2 separate regions of the Homo sapiens genome follow, and region 1 is linked to region 2. Evidence: fine-mapped expression QTL. A gene starts in region 2. The other region holds a variant in brackets. All regions are shown on one strand. Distances are from middle to middle.

Region 1 (11,405 bases), 72 kb after region 2:
AAAGTGCTGGGATTACAGGCGTGAGCCACCGCGCTCGGCCTATTGTACATTTTTTATGGGTTGCTTTGAGGAGGTTAAATATTCTCTCTCTTTCCATAGCATCCCAAAGTCATGAGCAACCCCAAAATCTGTCAATGTAAATGTTTGAAGCCTTCTCTTTTGCCAGTTGACAAGCTCAAGTCAGTTAGGGCAATCAATTTGGCAACTCCACTTGAGCTGATCTGGCTTAGGGAAGAGGACCGGCTTCAATTACCTCCATAAGGAAACCACAGCATATCCTGCTCTAAAATTTCCATCCTCTCCTCTTAAATAAGATCCACCTGTATACCATTCTATTTTGGCTTTATCCAGTGGCATCTATTGTAGGTCTGCCCTGGGGGTAACAAGTCAGTCAATCATTACAACATAGTCATGAGGGATTTTGTCGAAAAGTCCCAGCAAGAGAGTGGCTGGATTAAGATCACTGTAGTGGGAAATAGTTATATTGGGAGATAATAAAAGCCAAAATTTATAAGAGGCTGACCAGCTGACAGATCTTGAGTATGATGACAGTTTAGAAGGGTATCCAGAGAATGCAGCACAAAAATGGTAAGGGGGTAACCCATAATAATTTCTTCAACAGACTTGTACAGAAGGGCAATTGCTGTGATTGCTGTCATACAAGGAGGCAGCCCTTGAGCCACAGCGTCCAGCTGTTGGCTACAATTGCCAATAGGTCTCTGATAATCACCATGTTTCTGGGTCAGTACTCCAAATGCAGTACCCACAATTTCGTGTGCAAAAAGGGAGAAAGGAAATTTGTAGTTTGGGTTTTCTAAAGCTGAGGCATCAGTTAGAATTTCCTTTATTTGTTGTACAGCTGATTGTCCCTCTGGAGTCCACATGATGGGATCAGGTTGTTCATTTTTTTAGGTAGGCATACAGAGGTTGAGCCATAAGGGAGAAAGTTGGTATCCAGTTTCTGTAATAGCCTGCCAGGCCCCAAAATCCTCTAAGTTGTTTCTTAGTGACAGGCATGGGGAAAGCTGAAATTCCTCTTACACTGTCAGGGTTAATACTCAGTCCTTTGACAGAGATAATATGCCCCTAATACTTAAGTCTCAGTAAATATAGCTGAAGTTTGTCTTTGGACACTTTGTGTCCCTTGATGGCTAACTGTTTGAGTAAATATAGACTATCTTCTTGAGAGGAAGACAGTGTGTCTGAACAAAGGAGAAGATCATGCACATACTGGATGAGTGTTGAGCCCTGGGTAAAAATTAAATCCTCTGGCTGGGTGCTGTGGCTCATGCCTGTAATCCCAGCACTTTGGGAGGCCGAGGTGGGTGGATCACGAGGTCAGGAGTTTGAGACCTGCCTGGCCAACATGGTGAAACCTTGCCTCTACTAAAAATACAAAAGTTAGCCAGGCATAATGGCAGGCGCCTGTAATCCCAGCTACTCTGGAGGCTGAAGTAGGAGAATCACTTGAACCTGGGAGGCGGAGGTTGCAGTGAGGCGAGATCCACCATTGCACTCCAGCTTGGGTGACAGAGTGAGATTCCGTCTCAAAAAAAAAAAAAATTAAATCCTCTAAATCAGCTTTTAATATTTGGGAAAAGTAAGTGAGACTTTCTGTATACTCTTGGGGCATTACTGTCCATGTGTATTGTTGTTCTTTCCAAGTAAAGGCAAATATCCAAATATTGGCTGTCTGGACCTACAGGAATACTAAAGAAGGCACTGCAGAGACCCACAACTGAGAAATACTGGCTGTGTGAGTACAGTTGATAGAAGGGTGTGTGGGTTGGGGACTGCTGGGTGTCTGGGTATTATGACATTGTTTATTGCCCTAGCATCCTGCACAAGACTCCATCTTCTCCTGCTTGGTTTCTTGACAGGGAATATAGGGCTATTGCAGAGGCTTGTGCAGGAAATAATGAGCCCCTTTTTCAGATAATCTTGTGTGGTAGGGACAGTTTCATCTATGGCTCCCTGTCATAGAGGATATTAAGATTGAGTAGGGGTTTCTTTGGGTTTTTCTCTACCTTTATTGGAATGGCTGAGAATATATTCCCTATATCTGTATTTGACTGAGACCATAAGTGGGATGGGACATCCTTTAGCAAGTGCTCTGCTTCTGTTGTTAACAGGAAGATTGGGGAAGCTAAAAGGAGTTTTACTGCTTTCTTCTCTTTATTCCAATGTTCTTTCTTCTCCCCTAATATTTCCTTCTCTGCTCCACTTCACTTTCCTTGTCACAAGATGATGTTTTAACATTATTGGTGCTAAATTGTGGTACATTGTCAGGACAGTTTTTAATTTGGTATTTTTGGTCCCCTGACTCCAATTCTTAAAAAAGTTCACCTTTTGATGAAAAAGAGATATGGGCATTATGGATGTTGAGGAGATCACAGACCAAAAGATTGACAGGGGCCCCAGGGCATATTAGAAATATATGGGACCTACTTAACGTGTCACACTTAGAGCCTGGGTCAAGGGGGTGATTCCATTGAAATGATAAGGTACAAGTTTTGACCTAAAACATGAGATTGTTTTATTAGACACACCCAACATGTTAATTATTTTATTACTCTGAAGAATGAGGTTTCTAAATAAGGTGGGGTTTATCAGAGATATAGTCATGCCTGTGTCAATTAAGGTAGTTGTAAGCTCATGGTTTATTATTATATGAATCTCTCCCAATTTGTTTGTCAGGATAGAATATTTGGAGAAGCGAAACCCCTGCACTTTCTCGGAGCATCCCTAGTCTTCCTGAGTTGCATTCTCCTGCCTTTTCTTTTGTTTCAGCCTAAGGCAGCCTCGCTTAAGGTATCCTCGTCTTTTACAGTAGTAACAGACTGGGAGGCAAGAGTCTTCAGATGGAGAGAGCTTAAAGTCTTTCTGGGGCTGAGAGGTTTGAGAAGTTAATTGCTTTAGCTGTAAATGCATAACCTGGGCAATCTTCTATTTCTCCTTTTTTTTTTTTTTTTGTCATAGCGCAGGATATTTGATCAGCTAAGTTAACTAGTTCATTAGTCTAGTCATGGCCCAATTTGTCATGTGCCATTTTACAAGGGTGGCTAAATCATCATCTAGTCTGTTTAAGAAATTTGCATTTTATAATGTATTATTTTTTATTGTTTTCAAAGCAATCAACTGACATCCTGCAATACTTAAAGTTTTATCAAAATATGTTAAATAATTTAAAACTGATTCATTTGGGTTCTGGCAGCATTGTTGGATTTTATTCCAATTCACAACCCTTTGGAGCACTGAAGGAATAATATTTAACAGAGCAGTCACTCATTCCCGTGACTCTTTATGCCTGTCTTCTGGATTTCGGGGGCTGGTTGTTGGCTCTATTGGGCCTTCAGGGGTTAAATCTGCTATAGGGTCTGACCACTGTGCTTTTTCCAGCCATTCCTTAGCTTTAGCTTCTGAGACCAACATGTAGACTAGCTGATAAAGGTCTGAATGACCTGGGTGATAGGTTCTGATAATGAGCTCATATTTTTGGGCAAAACCAATTGGATCTTTATGGAGGTCAGGAAATTCTTTAACTATGCCTCGTAATTCAGCCTTTGACCAGGGTTGGTAGACAATTGGCAGGGATCCCTTACCTGTTACCGGTTGTTCCTGAAATGGGGCGATCATGAGAGATGTCCCTGTAGGGTCCCTCATTTTCACATCTTCCAGATGAGATGCTGCCATTGGGGCTGTCAGGGAATCATCAGGGAGTGGAGTCTTTGAAGTCAGACTACTGTTGAGTGGTAGACATGGAGGAGAAGGGGGGAACAGATCTGACCTGGGAAGTTCAGAGAGGTCAGGGTAGAGTGAGGGTGGAGGTGGAGGTAGGGGAGATGCCAATAGCTCTTTAAGAGAGATAAAAGATTACAGAGTTCTTGATGAGCATTTCTAAGTTGTTTGTTGGCCTTCAGTCTTCCTCCCTTTTGCTACTCTCCAGATACCATTGAAAGTAGCTCCTCCATTCTGGCTGTTTAGTTTTTGTGCCTGCGTTTTCCATCCTGGTTCACAGTTACACTAATTTGGGCATATCAAAAGATCCCCATTTAGGCCATTGTAACTTAGAATCTGCTTTAGTTATAGTGGTCCACTTGGTTAAATATTTGCATGACTATTTGCCACAATACCCATCCGGAGTTTCTGAAGGGGGAACTTTATGTTCCTCCGGGGTCTTAGAGACCTTATTCCCCATAACTTAGAGTTCCTTTTTGGATTTCACCAAGTTGGGATGTGTGTTGGACCCCAAATGTGCTGCTTGCAGACCTAGCTTTTCAGGGCCATCACAACCTAAACTGGTTCAGTCCACACATGTTGCGGCTACCTGGCATATGTGTCAGGGGCTGAAGGTGTGGGAGGGGTCAGCTCCTTATATGCACCTGTCAGCTGAGATTAGACCCTAAGTATGTTCTCCTGAGGGGGAAACCTATTCAGAGGCACTGAACATCTTAGGGAGTGCTTCTCTCCATCACCCTCATGTGATTCTCAGTCACCTGAGAATGCCACAAAAGGCTGAGAGGAGCAAGGTGCTCCTATTTGTTTTTCAGAGTGGAGAATTCCACCCTCATGAGCTAGAGGGTTTGGAGTTGGTCAAACCTGATAGGGGAAAGAACCGAAACACACACACACACACACACACACACACACACACACACACAAACAAAACAAAACAAAACAAAACTAGAAACAACAAAACCGTTAAGCAAAACTAACAATAATGACACAAATTATATGATTTCTGAGTGCTCTAAGTGTAAGTGGGAAATTAACACCAGCTGGTTGTTGATGCTAATTTTAGTCATTTAAAAGAATTTGTAAGACAGAATCCCAAACCTGTTCTTTACCTAGTGATGGAGGTCCAAGCTGAAGTCTGCTTTCTGCTGATACAAAAGCAGACAGGCTCACCTTCCTTGATGGAAATGAGTGGAAACTCCCACAAAAAAGGAGTTTTTTTTTAAACAGCAAATAAACCTCAGACCGCAAGATCCCTGATACAGAAGCAGATAGGCTCGCCCTCCTTGAAGGAAACAAGTGGAAACTCCCATAAAAAAGGAGCTTTTTGTTTGTTTGTTTGTTTGTTTGTTTAATAACAGCATATAAACCTCAGACTCCTAGATCCCTGAAAAACTTTGGAAGATCAGGGATCCCTGGAGGAAAGAGATCCTGGACTTCAGAAAATTGTCCTATTGGTTTGGGCTATAAGGTGCCCAAGCCGGAACCAAACACGAGAGATGAGAGGCTGCAGGCTGGGTCACTTTCACTCAGGATCCCTCCATGGTTACTAGACGTCAATAGAGAAAAATGATGAGACAAGCCTCAATCATTTTAGGAGATTTATTTGCCAAAGTTAAGGACGCGCACCAGGAGATAGGTCTATGCCTTTCTCCAAAGATGACTTTGAGGGTTCTAAATTTAAAGGGGAGAGGGTGGGATATTGAGAAGTACACAATTTTCATGTAAGGGGTGGGTAGGGAAAAATAGTCATTCATGCCTTTGTCTGGCTCAGTGAATCTGCATTTTTTTTTTTTTGAGACGGAGTCTCGCTCTGTCACCAGGCTTGAGTGCAGTGGCGCGATCTTGGCTCACTGC[A/C]ACCTCCGCCTCCTGGGTTCCAGCGATTCTCCTGCCTCAGCCTCTCGAGTAGCTGGGATTACAGGCACGTGCTACCACGCCCAGCTAATTTTTGTATTTTTAGGAGAGACGGGATTTCACCATGTTGGCCAGGATGGTCTTAATCTCCTGACCTTGTGATCCACCCGCCTTGGCCTCCAAAAGTGCTGGGATTACAGGCGTGAGCCACCGTGCCTGGCCACCTTGCATTTTTTATATAAGATGATATAAAACAAATGGAGCAGAGAAAAAAAATGCAGGGAATCTGCATTTTTACATAAGATAACATAGACAAAATTGGGCAGATATGCATTTATGTCTGGTGGGCTGGGGGTGACTGCACCTGTAAAAATAAGCTATCAATTTGCATTGCCACGGTGAAATTTTAAGAGCTCACTAGGAATTTCCTTGTGGGCAACATATGGGGGAGGTGTGTAGCTTTCCATCTTGTAGCCATCTTATTTAGGAACCAAAAGGGAGACGCAGGTTTGTGTGACCCAGTTCCAAGCTTGACTTTTCCCTTTGGTCAAATGAGTTTTGTGTCCCCAAATTTAATTTCCTTTCATAATAACATAAAATTCTCCAAAGCAACAGTAACTACTTAATATCATCAAGTTTTGTGCTCATTTTTCTCTCATACTCCTATAATTTTTTAGAATTGGTTTAAATCATACTATTTAATATGTTAACACTTCTAATACCTGACCTTTCATATCTCTTTCCTTGTTTGTTTTCTCTTGGCAGCATTTCTCATGAATATATTATGTATTTCATTTCTTATTGTGTTTAGCCTCTGTCTGTCCAGCAAACATATCTGGTGTAATAATTAGCTGTCAGAATAATTGTTGAATAAATGAAGAGCTTGAAGCTTGATAGCAAGTCCTTTATTTTGCTAATGCATTATAAAAGGTATAAGAATAGATGGACTGGAGTCTTGTGAAGCCTGGTAAACCTTCCCCCCTCCACACTTCTCTTTCCCCTTCTCCCTTTCGCTCCCCCAACCCAGTGTGTGTGTGTGTGAGTGTATGTGTGTGTATGTTTGTGCATCTGTCTGTCTGGCTCTCTCTCTTTCTCATTTCCTCCCTCTCCACAATGAACATGTCTAGGTGAAGGATGCACAAATGTAATGCTTTAAATAAAATGTAATGCTTTAAATTCAGATTAAAAATGTAATACCTGTAGACTGAAGGCAAGAATAGTACAAGCAGAATTCAAGGGCCTATTACAGCCGGTAGATATAATCCATTGAAGGATTTCTCTGTCTGTCTAGAATTGCACTGAAAGCCTTTCCGAAAGTCTTGGTTTGAGGATAGAGAGTACAAAGGTGACCATACCTGGTGTAGTGATCCCTGTCTTTCCCAGGGTTGACCCTTCAAGGGGGCAGAATTACAAGCTATTCTCAGTTTGTGCTTTGGGGAGATTATCAAAATATCCCTAGTTCTATTTTATGATACACATTCAGAATCATAGTCTCTGTGTTCGAATTTCAGTCTCCAGGTACAGACCCGGAGTGACTTTCAGAATTAGAACACTACTAGCTCCTCTTCATGAATGTTATCTTCTAAAGAGGCCCTCAGAGAGGGTAGATCAGTTTCCCTTAGGGATTCCCTCTCAGGGACATCTTGAGCTTGGGACACCAGCTAGAGATTTTCAGCAGGTTTCTGGGGAAAATGGGGGCATGGAGATGGCACTATGAGGTAATAGAGGCAGCTGGAAGGGAAGCAGAGTAACATAAGTTCAGACAGCTCCACGAAAGACAGGTGGTTTCCTTGGGGATGGAGCCTTCATTAACGTGATTTACTGAGGCCCCTGTCATTCCTGGCTCTTAGTAAGGATTTTCCAGATAGGACAGCTGTGATTACGCAGGCAGAGAAAGGTTACAGATCAGGTTACCAACCCCCTCCTACTGACTTCAGGTAGTTTGATAGGGTGAGGGCAGATTATCCCATGGAGCATGCACCCAGGGAGGAGGGGCAGCGGGAAAGAGAACGAACAGAAGGGCGAGAGAATTGGCAGGATCCGTCTCCTACCTCTTCCTAGGCCCACAGCCAGTGCCTTTGGAGTACTGAGGCGCGCACAGAGTCCTTAGCCCGGCGCAGGGCGCGCAGCCCAGGCTGAGATCCGCTGCTTCTGTGGAAGTGAGCATGGTTGGGCAGCGGGTGCTGCTTCTAGTGGCCTTCCTTCTTTCTGGGGTCCTGCTCTCAGAGGCTGCCAAAATCCTGACAATATCTACACTGGGTGAGTGCTTGGCCGGAGAATTCCCAGACAGGCGCGTCCCGGATCCCCGCACTGCCAGGGCTCCAGCGAACGGCGATTGATCAGAGTTATCCAGGCGATTTTCCAGGCTGGGCTTGCGGACCTGGCTGGAGGAGGGAGAAGCCCATCTAGCCGTGGGGCAGAGAGGGGCCTCTATTGCTGAGGTGAGGAAGACAGTTTTTGAGAAAAGACACTCTCCTTTCTTCTCTCTTCTTGTTCAGGACGCGCTCCCCGTCCCGCAGGACTGGGGCCAGAAATTTGAGACCAGGACCAGAGCTTGAGTTCCTGGGCTGCCTTCTCTAGAGCGCAGTGGGACTTTCAGAGGCTCACCCTAAGCTCCATGGGGCCGGGAGGTGCACAGTAGCTTCCAGCAGAAACGGTGGTGACCGTTTCCAGCCTCTTGGAGACCAGGGAAAGGCACTCCTGAGGGCAGCACTGCAAATGTTGTGAAGCTGCATATGGAGCCAGGGTGGCGCAGGCAGGTATTTCATGACTGCAATGCCAGCGGAGTGTTTTTCTCCAGGGGAAACCTGGAGAACTGCCCAGGTCTGAGGAGAGAACCCAGGTCATTCGGATCTTTTGGAGCCTCCTTCCTTTTACCTGTGCCGCTGACCGTTTTTAAGGGATTCATGGGACTGTTAATTCTGCATTTTGGGCCTCAGTTTTATTTTATTTTTATTTCAAAGGAAGTAGAAGATGAAAGAGAATTATATATGAGCTCGATCCCAGGATCGATCTTCCCCAAGACTTTATTTTAATCCGTAGTGGGCGCTAAAGGATTCCTTTTAGATCACGGAGAATCAGGGCTCTTAGAGCTGGAAGGAACCACGGATCATCTAATTTAGTGCCCATTTTGATATTCTGAGAGGGCAACTGAGGGACAGGGAAGTGAGATGCCTTTCTTAAGAGCACATGTGGCCTCCTTAATGTCCCATGAAGAATTGTTTAGGGTTTCTTACCCCAAGACCACGCTCACCACAACTTCCGCTCTGATGCCGTTTTCACTAAGGATTTTCTTTCTTTTTTTTTTTTTTTTTGAGACGGAGTCTTGCTCTGTCGCCCAGGCTGAAGTGCAGTGGCGCCATCTCAACTCACTGCAAGCTCCGCCTCCCGGGTTCACGCCATTCTCCTGCCTCAGCCTCCCGAGTAGCTGGGCTGGGACTACAGGCGCCCGCCACCACGCCCAGCTAATTCTTTTGTATTCTTTTAGTAGAGACGGGGTTTAACCGTGTTAGCCAGGATGGTCTCCATCTCCTGACCTCGTGATCCGCCCGCCTCAATCACTAAGAAACTGTGTTAGTTCATTTGAAGTCTTTTCCCCGCTTTCTGAGTGTTAGTAGCAGTGAAGCAACAGAGCTTCTTAACTTCTTGGAAGTACACAGCCCTCCTTCCTCAGACTTCAAGAGGGAGCTGGTGTCGTTTCTGAATCCAGATGCTGGAATCCAGGTCTTTGCCCCAGAAAGCCATTTGAGTCCTTAAGACCCACTATGAGTGGCTGTTTCTGTGAGGACCCCTTCTTCCTGAGTCCCTGTTCTTACATGGATTAAAATGTGAGCAAGACCGTTGCAGATTTGTACTTTATACATCCCTTGTTGCTTTAGACTATTCAAGTCTGAGTATAAGTAGAGTGAGTCATTCAGACAGCTGCGCACTATTTCTCTACTCCCCTTCCACCTCCATCCTCAAACTCTCGGCATTTTTCCATTAATTTCTCTTCTGATCTTTCTTTTTCTGCTGCTGAGAACCTTAGCTTCCAGTGAAGGGTCTGTGTTGGAACATGCACTAAGAGAAGATATTAACGTGATAAAACTTTTACCTCTTTTGAGAACCAAGCTTCTCTTTCCTTAGCATGGTAGGATTTTCCTAGAATCAGTGATTCTTTAGTTTCTGGTGCAACCAGGATCTATAGGCCCACCCCAAGGGCTCCACAGTTGTCCTCAAATATCTTAATTATAAGTTGTACATTGGCCCAAATTGAGTAATTTCCTGCCAAATACATTTTAATCACAAAGATTTGGGCTCTAAGTAGTAGCTTCTGTCCAATGGCAGTTTCTTAGACTCACCTTGTAACTTCTGTATTTCTGTCTCCTACAGTAGCATACTTTTCCAAAATAGGATGAAAGATAGCTCTGACTGATTGCCCATTAGGAACCCTTCATACTAATGTACACACTACTGTGCTGTATTTTCTATCATTGCAGTTATATTTTGGAGACAATATCTCTCTAAGGCCCCAAGTAACATGCAGCACATACCTTAAGATGAGCAACTTTTACAGGCGTAATCACAGAGAAGCTCATTACACTGACATGGAGTCTTTGAGCCACAAGCGGAAATCTTTGATGGAGGATTGCCACAGGTCCCGAACATAGGACAGGAAGGCTTTGGGTGCATGTACTGGGCATTACCCAAAGTGAGATTGAGGAACAGGAAGCGCTTATCTCCATCTTCTCACTGTTCACATTTCCTCTTCCCTATGCTTTTTCTGCTGAATTTCCATTCCCTCCTGCCTACTCCCATATTGTCATCAGAAACTCTATTTTCATCTTTACAAAAGACATTGTGCATTGTTTCTAGGTGGAAGCCATTACCTACTGTTGGACCGGGTGTCTCAGATTCTTCAAGAGCATGGTCATAATGTGACTATGCTTCATCAGAGTGGAAAGTTTTTGATCCCAGGTATCTTTTTTAAAAACTAATTTTTATATTCTTTTACTCTAAGCAAAAAGTGATAATATATTTTTTATACAGCTGCATAGTAAAAACTTCTTTGAATCTAGTCTTATTTCGGGATGAATAAATGTGTGTGTGGATGTGTGTTCATGTTAAGTATTGGAATTCTTATTGGGTCTGTAGACTAAGACTTCACATAACATACTTCTGTATTTTACCACTTACCTGGGTGTCATTCTATTCTAGACAACTCTCCACACATTATTATTAATTATTTTGAGGAATACTACACAATGGTATGGCTTAAAGTTTTTTTGAACAGAAATGTTTAGCCATATTTCAGGCTTTTATTATGTAAGTATAGAAGTTCTTCTTATCCCACAGGTTACTTTCTATTCTTGAGAGACTTGAAATTTATGAAAGATTTCCCAGGGAGCCTCTTAATTATTAACTAAGATGAGAATATATGATTAACACGACCTCATATGCTTGAAAAATTTGTAGCTATGCATAAGTTGTACATAATGATGTCAGAAGTTTTTAATTGATTCATTTCCTCCAAAGAATTGTAACTAAAATGAAACTCATAAATTCCTGTTGACAGACAAGGAGACGGAGGTCCAGGGAACTGAAAAAATTTGTTTAATGTCAAATGAAAAATTAATAACAGAGTTGGGCGAATCTGGGTCTTCAGGCTCTGGGTTTCTCAATCTGAGGGTTTCTGAAGCTTTGAACAACATCAAAAATTAACCATCTTGGGAGAAAAAGTCTGAGTCATTATAAAATTCTGAAGGTAAACTTCAGGCCTTGTTAATGTTTAGATAGTTTTAATGCACTTTTGATCACCTTCTAGATTGAGTTTTGGA
Region 2 (11,405 bases):
CCTGTGCTTGAGAGTACAAGGCTGGACACAGGCTCGTGGGTCTCCACATTGGGTCCCTGTCTCTGGTGCCCACAGTGAGCTCCTTCTTTGCTGAGCAGGCATGGAGACTGTAGGTTTCCAGATTTCCTGAAAAATAAAAGTTTACAGCATTATCTTTCCACAACCTCACTAAACGATTGGCCAAGAGATTTCTGTCCTAATTGCCCAGAATTCTGTCATCTGGCTACTCAAGGCTATCGGGGAATGGGGTAAGTCTGCACTGGCACCTGGCCAGGGTGAAGGCAGCGGGAAGTGGGTGGAGGGTTAGCTAACCTGTGGGGTCTGAAGAAAGAGAAAAGTGGCCAAAAATCCTCCAGAATGCTTGACCTGCTGAACCAGAATATTTTGCTATTTAGCCTTGACCTATATTCATGCACTTAAGCAGCAAGCTATCATGGGCATGCTGATAAAGAAACACTTCTGTTTCCTGGTTACAGTCTCTGGCTGGACCTGAGGAAGCACTGAGTTTGCTTTAATGACTTTCCTTTTTTTTTTTTTTTTTTAATTGAGATGGAGTCTCGCTCTGTTGCCCAGGCTAGAGTGAAAGTGGCACGATCTCAGCTCACTGTAACCTCCCCCTCCCAGGTTCAAGTGATTCTCCTGCCTCAGCCTCCTGAGTAGCTGGGATTACAGGCATCTACCACCACACCTGGCTAATTTTTTTGTATTTTTAGTAGAGATGGGGTTTCATCATGTTGGCCACGCTGGTCTTGAACTCCTGAACTCAGGTGATCTGCCCACCTAGGCCTCCCAAAGTGTTGGGATTACAGGTGTGAGCCACTGCACCCAGCCTTCAGTGACTTTCTAAGTGTGATGGGGACCACAAGGTAGGCAGCCAGAGCAGATGATTTCAATCATGGAGCCCCAGATCCATGTAGATGAGAAGGTGGAATGCAATTGTAGCTGTGGTTCCAAGGACAGCACAGACAGGACTGTGTGTTATCCCTTGAGGGACCATTGCTACAAACCAGTTGGCACTAAACCTTAAGTCGTATAAGGAGGATGAAACCCACTTTATTTGGGTTCTGTAGAAAATTTGCAAATGGACTCTTTTTTCAGTCTGTATGTTTCTGAAGTTCTCTGTGCAAAGGATTTTGTACTAATGAGTAGGAGGTATGTATCCACATCAAAATGTCTCCACATGTACAGGAGAATGGAGACTTTAGGCTTTACTAATAGGTGCTAGAATTAATCTGGGTATTCATGTGTACTGTTCCTTTGTGACGCCTATGACACTCTTTGCTTTTGACTGGCATTAAGGTTTAGAAAATGCATAGGTTGGTATCGGGATAGAGTAAAGAGAGTACATCATAGGGAGTTTCCCCTTCTGGGGCCTCCACAATCTGCATGTAATTAAATGCTGCATGTAATATAAACATAAACAAGAAGATCACATAACACCCACAGAACCCATAGCTTCCCATAAGTAGAAAAGAAGACACCAGATTGTAGCAAAGCTATCTCCTCAACTCCTGCTGCAAGCCTTTATGGAGACCTAATGAGTCTGGAAATATTGTACATAGGAAGCAGGTTCACTGTGAATGGGTTATCAGTTTGTCTGACTCCAGTGAGATGGAGCACCACCCCCGCTCCAAGTTATATGAAGGGAATTAGTGGTCTAAAATACTAAAGTCTTCAAAGAAAGCCAAAAAGTAGAGGAAATGTAACAGAATAAGTGGGAGAAATAGCAACCTGGTAGATTTAAACACATGCATTCGGACTGAAATACAAGATTGACAGACTTGAATAAAAATTTCAAGCTGATTGCTGTTTCAAGAGACACACCTAAAATATGAGGATACAGGAGGGTTGAACATGAAAGGATAGGAAAAGATAGATCTTTTTCCACAATGGAAGATAAAATCTGAATGGTTAGTAGTAATGGCAAACAAAATAGACTTTGGGTGAAAAGTGTTACCAGAGACAAAATAGGTCCTCATTATAAAACGAGGACTAACTGTTTCCCTGGAAGGTATAATACCTGAAACTATAATTGTTCATATATATGCATTTAATGAGTAGCCTTATGTGTATACAGGAAAAATTGCTATAACACCAAGGAAAAATAGAATTATAGTGGAAGAGCTATAAAAACATCTTAATGAAAAATTTCAAACATTCACAAAAGTAGAACTTCTTTATGCTCAGGATTTAGCTCCAGTGATTACTAACTCCTGGCAATTCTCTTTTCTTATCCTGCCACCCACATTTAACCTTGTTTACCCCCACAACCTATTATTTTGAAGCAAATCTGAGAAATCATAAGACAGAATCTGTAAATGTTTCAGAATGTACCTTAAGAGCCAATTTCCTTCCTTCCTTCCTTCCTTCCTTCCTTCCTTCCTTCCTTCCCTCCCTCCCTCCCTCCCTCCCTTCCTCCCTTCCTTCCTCCCTTCTTTTTTGACAAAGTCTCACTATGTTTCCTAAGCTGGAGTGCAGTGCTGCGATCTCGGCTCACTGCAACCTCCATTTCCTGGGTTCAAGCGATTCTCCCACCTCGGCCTCCCGGGTAGCTGGGACCACAGGCACATGCCACCATGCCTGGCTAATTTTTGCATTTTTAGTAGAGACGGGGCTTCACTATATTGGCCAGGATGGCCTTGAACTCCTGACTTCGTGTTCCCCCCACCTCACCTACCAAAGTGCTGGGGTTATAGCATGAACCACTGCACCCAGCCAGAATTTCTTTATAAGATGTTTATAACCACAATTACATAGAACTCTTCTCCAAAGCAACAATAACTAGTTAATATTTTCAAAATTTGGGTTCATATATCTCTGATACTCCTATAATATTTTAGAGTCCATTGGAATCATGCTATGTAAAACGTTAACGAATCTGATACCTGACTCTTCATATCTCTTTCCATTTGATTTTTCTTAGTAACATTTGCCATTAATGTACTATATATTTTATTTCTTAGTGTGTTTAGTATCAGTTTGCCTGGCAGAACAATGCCTGGCATAATAAATAGCTATCAGCCAGGCGTGGTGGCTCATGCCTGTAATCACAGCATTTTGGGAGGCCAAGGCGGGTGGATCATGTGAGGTCAGGAGTTCAAGACCAGCCTGGCCAACATGGTGAAACCCAGTCTCTACTAAAAAATACAAAAATCAGCCGGGTGTGGTGGCAGGCACCTGTAATCCCAGCTACTCGGGAGGCTGAGACAGAAGAATTGCTTAAACTTGGGAGGCAGAGGTTGCAGTAAGCTGAGAGTGCACCACTGCACTCTAGCCTGGGTGACAGAGCGAGACTCTGTCTCAAAAAAAAAAAAAATCTATCAATATAATTGTTGAATAAATAAAAATCTTGGAGTTTGATAACAAATCCTTTATTTTGCTAATGCATTATGAAAAGTACAAGAATAAGACGAACTGGAGCCTTGTGATGTCTGGTAAACCTCGCCCTTCCCACACTTTTCTCTCTCTCTCTCTCTCTCTCTCTCTCTCTCTCTCTCTCTCTCTCTCCTCTTTCTCCACAATAGGCATGGCTAGGTGAGGGATGCACAAATGCATAAGAATGTAATGCTTTAAATTCCAATGAGAAAAAATAACCCCTGTAGACTGAAGAAGGCAGGAATAGAACACGCAGAATTCAAGGACCCACTGCAACCAAGGATTTCTCTGCTTATTTAGAGTTGCACTGAAAGCCTTTCCTAAAGGAAGTCTTAGTTTGAGGATAGAGAGTAAAGGGGACTACCGGACCTGGTGATCCCTGACCTCACTGGGGCTGACATTGCACGGAGGCAGAATTACAAGCTGTCATCAGCATGTGCTCTTGGAAATTATGGAAAGATTCACCAGTCCTATTTCAGGATACTCATTCAGAATGATAGTCTCAGCTTTTGAATTTCAGTCCTCCAGGGACAGACCTGGACTTCCAGAGGTAGGACTCTAGCCTCTTTTCAGGAATGTTACCTTCTAAAGAGACACTAAGAGATAGATTCCAGGGATGGTAGATTGATTTCCCTTGGGGATTCCCTTCCAGGGAGGTCTTGGGCTTGGAACATCAGCTCAAGATTTTAAGCAAGTCTCTCAGGAAATAGATCGCGGGGCTGGCAGTATGAGGTAATAGAGGCAGTTAGAAGGGAACTAGAGTAGGTAAATTCACACAGCCTTTGCAAAAGAGAGGTGGGTCCCATGGAGATAGAGCTTTCATCAGCTCGATTTACTGAGGTCCCTGCCATTCCTCACTCACAGTAAGGATTTTCCAGGCAGGAGGGCTGTGATCACAAGGGCAGAGCAGGGTTAAGTATGGGCTCACCGACCCCTCCTACTGACTGCTGGTAGTTTGGTAGAGCGAGGATAGATTATCCAATGGAGCACGAGGGAGGAGGGGCAGAGGGCAAGAGGGGATGGACAGAAGAGAAGACTGGCAGGATCCTTACTCCTACCTCTACCCACAGCCAGTGCCTTTGGCGCACTGAGGTGCACAGGGTCCCTTAGCCGGGCGCAGGGCGCGCAGCCCAGGCTGAGATCCGCGGCTTCCGTAGAAGTGAGCATGGCTGGGCAGCGAGTGCTTCTTCTAGTGGGCTTCCTTCTCCCTGGGGTCCTGCTCTCAGAGGCTGCCAAAATCCTGACAATATCTACAGTAGGTGAGTGCTTGGCCGGAGAATTCCCAGACAGGCGCGTCCCGGATACTCGCACTGCCAGGGCTCCAGAGAACAGCGCTTGATCAGAGTCATCCACGTGATTTTCCAGGCTGGGCTTGCGGACCCGGCTGGAGGAGGGAGAAGCCCATTCAGCTGTGGGGCAGAGAGGGGCCTCTATTGCTGAGGTGGGGAAGAAAGTTTTGGAGAAAAGAGATTCTCCTTTACTGTCTTCTTCCTGTTCAGGACGCGCCCCCATCCCGCAGGGCTGGGGCCAGAAATTTGAGACTCATCCCAGAGCTTGAGTTCCTGGGCTGCCTTCTCCAGGGCGCAGTGGGACTTTCAGAGGCTCACCTTAAGCTCCGGAGGGTGCGTGTGTGTGGGTGCACAGTAGCTTCCAGTAGAAACAGTGGTGAGCGTTTTCAGGCTCTTGGAGACCAGGGAAAGGCCCTCCTGAGGGCAGCACTGCAAATGTTGTGAAGCTGCATCCGGAGCCAGGGTGGCGCAGGCAGGTATTTCATGGCTGCAATGCCAGTGGAGTGTTTTCCACCAGGGGAAACCTGGAGAACTGCCGAGGGCTGAGGAGAAGATCCAGGTCATTCGCATCTTTTGGAGTATCTTTCCTTTTACCTGTGCCGCTGACCGTTATTTGAGGGATTCATGGGACTGTTAATTCTGCATTTTGGGTCTCAGTTTTACTTCTTTTACTTTTACCCCAAAGGGAATAGAAGATAAAAGAGAAACATATATGAACATAAAGGGATCATCTCAGGATCGAGCTTCCCCAAGACTTTATTTCAACCCATAGTGGGTTCTAATGGATTCCTTTTAGATCATGGAGAATTAGGGCTCGTAGGGCTGGGAAGAACCACAGATCATCTAATTTAGTGCCCATTTTCATTTCCTGAGAGGGCAATTGAAGGATGGGGAGTGAGATGCCTTCCTTAAGAGCACTTGTGGCCTCCCTGATGTCCCATGAGGAATTAACTCAGGGTTTTCTTACTGCAAGACCATGCTCACCACAACTTCCACTCTGAAGCCCTTTTCACTGGGGATTTTCAAAAATCACTGTTTAAGAAACAGTGCAAGTCCATTTGAAGACTTTTTCCCCCTCTTTCTGAGTGTTAGTAGCAGTGAAGCAACAGAGCTTCTTAACTTCTTGAAAGTACACAGCCCTCCTTCCTCAGGCTCCAAGAAGGAGTTGATGTCATTTCTGAGGTGCTAGAATGCTGATTTTTGCCCCAGAAAGCCACCTGACTCCCCAAGATCCACCGCTAACAGCTGTTTCTGTGGGGACCCCTTCTTCCCAGCTCCCTGTTCTTACGTGGATTAAAATGTGAGCAAGACCTGTTGCAGATTTGTACTTTATACGTCCCTTGTTGCTCCAGACTATTCAAGCCTGGGTATAAGTAAACTGAGTCATTCAGAGAGCTGAACACTACTTCTCTACTCCCTTCCACCCCCACCCCGCAGGCTTTTGGTATTTACTATTACATTACCTTCTCTTCTGATCTTCCTTTCTCTGCTGCTGAGAACCTTAGATTCAAGCAAAGGCTGTGTATTAGAACATGTACTGAGAAGACATTGATTTCGTGGAACTTGTACCTCTTTTGAGGATCAAGCTTCTCTTTCCTTAGGATGGATGTTTCTGGAATCAATGATTCCCTAGTCTCTCGTGCAACCAGGATCCAGCAGGCCCACCCCAAGCGCCCCACAGTTGTCCTCAAATGTCTTAATTAGAACTTGATCATTGTGTGGCCTAAATTAAGTACATCCTTTCAAAATACATTGGAATCTTAAGGATTTGGATTCTAAGTAGTGGCCCCTCATTCCTTCTGTTCCAGTGATGATTTCTTGGACCAATCTCTTAAGGTTTCTATCTCCTACAGCAGCAGAAATGTCCAAAGAGCAGGATCCCAGAAACAGCTCTCATTGTTTTTTAGGAACTATTCACACTCATATGTACAACACCATACCTGTATTTCCACCAGTGCCGTGATTTCTTTTGGACTCTGTGTCTCCATAAGGCCTTAGTTAAAATATACATGTACCTCAGGATGAGGAACTCCCATGGCTAAGCACATAGTAGCTCATTACACTGACATGGATACCGTGATTCACAAGAGGCAATCTCTCACGGACCAGAGCCACAGGTAAAAATTTGGGCGGCCATGCTCTGGGTGAGTGGGCTGGGTTTTACCCAGAGGGACATGAGGAGACTGGCAAAACTCATCTTCCTCCAATCACTATCCACTTCTGTTTCCTTACCTTTCCTCTCCTGGATTGATCACTACTGACTTCAGACACTGTATTCTCATCATTCCAGAACTGAAGTTGTGCATTGTTCCTAGGTGGAAGCCATTATCTACTGATGGACCGGGTTTCTCAGATTCTTCAAGATCACGGTCATAATGTCACCATGCTTAACCACAAAAGAGGTCCTTTTATGCCAGGTATCTTTTCTCACTTTTCTTGATTTCTCCTACTCCAAGCAAAGAGCAAAATGCTGTTTGCATAGAAAGGCTTAGCAAAATGTTTTTTAAAAATCTAATTCAATTGGAAGGATGAAAAGCTTGTGTGTGTGTGTATGTAAAGTGCCAAAAAACTTCTTAGTCTCTAATTACCGGGACCTGACGTTCCATACTCCCATATTTTTTTTTCCCCTTACTTGACTTCTACTCCATCCCAAGCAACCATCCACTCATTATTATGGATTATTTTAACAAATACTACTTTATAAGATGGCTTAAAAAATATATTAAACATGGTGGGGCAAGGTGGCTCACACCTGTAATCCCAGCACTTTAGGAGGCTGAGACAGGTGGATCACTTGAACCCAGGAGTTTGAGACCAGCCTGAGCAACATAGGGACACTCTGTCTCTACAAAAAATACAAAAATTAGCTTGACATGGTGGCACCCACTTGTAGTTTCAGCTACTTGGGAGGCTGAGGGTGGAGGATCGCTTGAGCCAGGAGGCAGAAGTTGCAGTGAGCTGGGAATGCACCACTGCACTAGAGCCTGGGCAACAGAGTGAGACTCCACCTCAAAGACTCTCTGTATATAGATAGAACAGAAATATTCAGCCTTATTTAACACTTCTTACATGTAAGAATCACTGTTCTTTTTATAGATTACTTTTCCTCTTTTTATGATATCGGAATTTAAGTAAGCTTTTGCAGGGAGACCCTTATTTATGCAGCTAAGTTAGGAGTCTATGGCTGAGATGGTCTTGCATTCTTGAAAAATAAGTGGCTGCCCACGAGTTTGTGCATAGTGATTTCAGATGTTCTTAATGGAGTCATTGAGTCCAAAGAATTTTAGCCAAAATGAAGCTCATAAATCTTATCAACACTTCTGTTGATCCACAAGGAAACAGAAACCCTGAGAACTTAACAGATTTGCTTGATAACAGAGTTGGGTGGATTTAGGACTTTATGCTCCAAATTGCTCAATATGAAAGTGTTGCTCAGGGAAAAGCCCAAACTCCATCATCATGCAATACACCTGGACATGCACCCCCTGAAGCTATAATTTTAAAAAAGAAAAAAAATCCAAAAGCAAGCATCTTGGAGGGAGAAAATTCTGAGATATTTTCAACCTTTGAAGATAATATCAGGCCTTGTCATTGTTCAGATTTCTAAAACCATTTTTTTTTTTTTGAGACAGAGTCTCGCTCTGTTGGCCAGGCTGGAGTACAGTGGCATGATCTTGGCTCACTGCAACTTCCATCTCCTGGGCTCAAGCAATTCTCCTGCCTCAGCCTCCTGAGTAGCTGACATTACAGGTGTGTACCACCATGCTCGGCTAATTTTTTGTATTTTTAGTAGAGATGGGGTTTCACCATGTTGGCCAGGCTAGTCTCGAACTCCTGACCTCAGGTAATCCTCCTGCCTTGGCCTCCCAAAGTGCTGGGATTACAGGTGTGAACCACTGCATCCAGCCAAAACCATTTTTTAATCTACATTTTCTCATTTAAATTTTGCCAAGTCAATCCTAAGCCAAAAGAACAAAGCTGGAGGCATCACACTACCTGACTTCAAACTATACTACAAGACTACAGTAAACAAAACAGCATGGTACTGGTACCAAAACAGAGATATAGATCAATGGAACAGAACAGAGCCCTCAGAAATAACGCCGCATATCTACAACTATCTGATCTTTGACAAACCTGAGAAAAACAAGCAATGGGGAAAGGATTCCCTATTTAATAAATGGTGCTGGGAAAACTGGCTAGCCATACGTAGAAAGCTGAAACTGGATCCCTTCCTTACACCTTATACAAAAATCAATTCAAGATGGATTAAAGACTTAAACGTTAGACTTAAAACCATTAAAACCCTAGAAGAAAACCTAGGCATTACCATTCAGGACATAGGCATGGGCAAGGACTTCATGTCTAAAACACCAAAAGCAATGGCAACAAAAGCCAAAATTGACAAATGGGATCTAATTAAACTAAAGAGCTTCTGCACAGCAAAAGAAACTACCATCAGAGTGAACAGGCAACCTACAAAATGGGAGAAAATTTTCGCAACCTACTCATCTGACAAAGGGCTAATATCCAGAATCTACAGTGAACTCAAACAAATTTACAAGAAAAAAACAAACAACCCCATCAAAAAGTGGGTGAAGGACATGAACAGACACTTCTCAAAAGAAGACATTTATGCAGCCAAAAAACACATGAAAAAATGCTCATCGTCACTGGCCATCAGAGAAATGCAAATCAAAACCACAATGAGATACCAATCTCACACCAGTTAGAATGGCAATCATTAAAAAGTCAGGAAACAACAGGTGCTGGAGAGGATGTGGAGAAATAGGAACACTTTTACACTGTTGGTGGGACTGTAAACTAGTTCAACCACTGTGGAAGTCAGTGTGGCGATTCATCAGGGATCTAGAACTAGAAATACCATTTGACCCAGCCATCCCATTACTGGGTGTATACCCAAAGGACTATAAATCATGCTGCTATAAAGACACATGCACATGTATGTTTATTGCAGCATTATTCACAATAGCAAAGACTTGGAACCAACCCAAATGTCCAACAATGATAGACTGGATTAAGAAAATGTGGCACATATACACCATGGAATACTATGCAGCCATAAAAAATGATGAGTTCATGTCCTTTGTAGGGACATGGATGAAATTGGAAATCATCATCCTCAGTAAACTATCACAAGAACAAAAAACCAAACACCGCATATTCTCACTTATAGGTGGGAATTGAACAATGAGATCACATGGACACAGGAAGGGGAACATCACACTCTGGGGACTGTTGTGGGGTGGGGGGAGGGGGGAGGGATAGCATTGGGAGATATACCTAATGCTAGATGACGAGTTACTGGGTGCAGTGCACCAGCATGGCACATGTGTACGTATGTAACTAACCTGCACAATGTGCACATGTACCCTAAAACTTAAAGTATAATAATAATAATAATAAAATTTAAAATTTCATTGTGGTAAAATATATATAACATAATCTACCATTTTAGCCATGTTTTTTAATTGAGTCAGAGTCTTCCTCTGTCTCCCAGGTTGGAGTGCAGTGGTGTGATCTTGGCTCACTGCAACCTCCGTTACCTAGGTTCAAGCGATTCTGGTACCTTAGCCTACCAAATAACTGGGACTACAGGTGCGTGCTATTAGGCGTGGGGCACCACGCCTGGCTAATTTTTTTGTATTTTTAGTAGAGACAGGGTTTTGCCATGTTCGCCAGGCCGGTCTTGAACTCCTAATCTCAGGTGATCTGCCTGCCTTGGCCTTCCAAAGTGCTGGGATTACAGGTGTGAGCCACCGCACCTGGCCCCATTTCCAATGTACCGTTTAGAGGCTTTAAGGACATTCACATTGTTGTAGGACCATCTCTGAAATTTTCAGAAGTTTTTCATCATCGTGAAGTGGAACTCTACTTATTAAACAGTGACTCCCTGTGGCTGACAGCCACTATTACTTCTTGAAACCATCACTAGGACAGTTATTACTGTTACTACTTGAGACCATCATTACGAGACTGAACGAAGGATGACGAACGTAAAAATGAAAACTTAAAAGAAACGGTTGTAAAGGGGCCAGGGGAAGAAGAAAAGAGCTCCCCGCTTCTAGTGAGCAAAGGCAGCCGCTGAGCTTCCACAACCCTTTTTATTGGGTAGAATGAGCAGGGAGGAGGAGGTAACGATTGGTCAGCTGCTTGATTGATCACAGGTTCATATTATTACTAACAGGCTTCAGATTTGCCTAATCGTAAGAAATATTGCACTTGGGGCGTGACTGCCCTCAGCATTCCTTCTGGGTGGCAGACGCAGTTTGTCAGTTTGCCAACATTCTGCATTTTATGAGAAACAGTCTGCTGTTTACTCATATAGCCTCCAGTGGTATACTGAGTTGATCACAACCCTCACTCTTTTGGCCTCCAACATTTCTCCCTTTTTGTTTTTGAATTAATTTGAGAAAGGCAATTACTGGCTGTGCAGCCCTCAATTGCTGGTTGGTGGTCCAGCTTATCTTACAGATGCACAGGAAACCATGGCCAGCATGGCCACAAACATGGAGTCAGGGGTCTTTGCCTGACCCTGATGCTCTAACAGTTTCTCAGCTTCCTGTGTGGTTTTCTTGATCTGTCTGCATGTCATGGGGGTTGATGTGAGTGTGACTCCAGTTGGTCCTCATTCCATCTTCACATTCAGATTCAACTGGCTCATGGCTTGTACTGGGGGAACCAGGCCTGTGATTGGAATCCATGAGTCCCTCCAGTCTC

Direction of the effects. Alleles are on the strand shown, and positions count from the first base shown. SD is a standard deviation of normalised expression in the study named.
As copies of C replace A in region 1, the expression in sun-exposed skin of the gene that starts at base 4,448 in region 2 goes down (small effect, 0.19 SD a copy in GTEx).

Evidence for each region. PIP is the estimated chance that this variant, and not a neighbour inherited with it, causes the effect. A credible set is the group of variants that fine-mapping cannot tell apart.
Region 1: its variant is the best candidate, but not a certain one, in a credible set for the expression of UGT3A2 in sun-exposed skin (GTEx, PIP 0.62).

The regions. Positions count from the first base shown.
Region 1 is chr5:35,987,590-35,998,994 of GRCh38, reverse strand. UGT3A1 (UDP glycosyltransferase family 3 member A1) reads left to right here and starts at 7,605. Exons shown (of 7, transcript NM_152404.4): 1 at 7,605-7,848; 2 at 10,444-10,545. The coding sequence starts at 7,755. The variant A/C (reference allele first, on the strand shown) is at 5,593.
Region 2 is chr5:36,059,925-36,071,329 of GRCh38, reverse strand. It overlaps UGT3A2 (UDP glycosyltransferase family 3 member A2), which reads left to right and starts at 4,448. Exons shown (of 7, transcript NM_174914.4): 1 at 4,448-4,634; 2 at 6,980-7,081. The coding sequence starts at 4,541. RefSeq lists an enhancer at 10,885-11,385.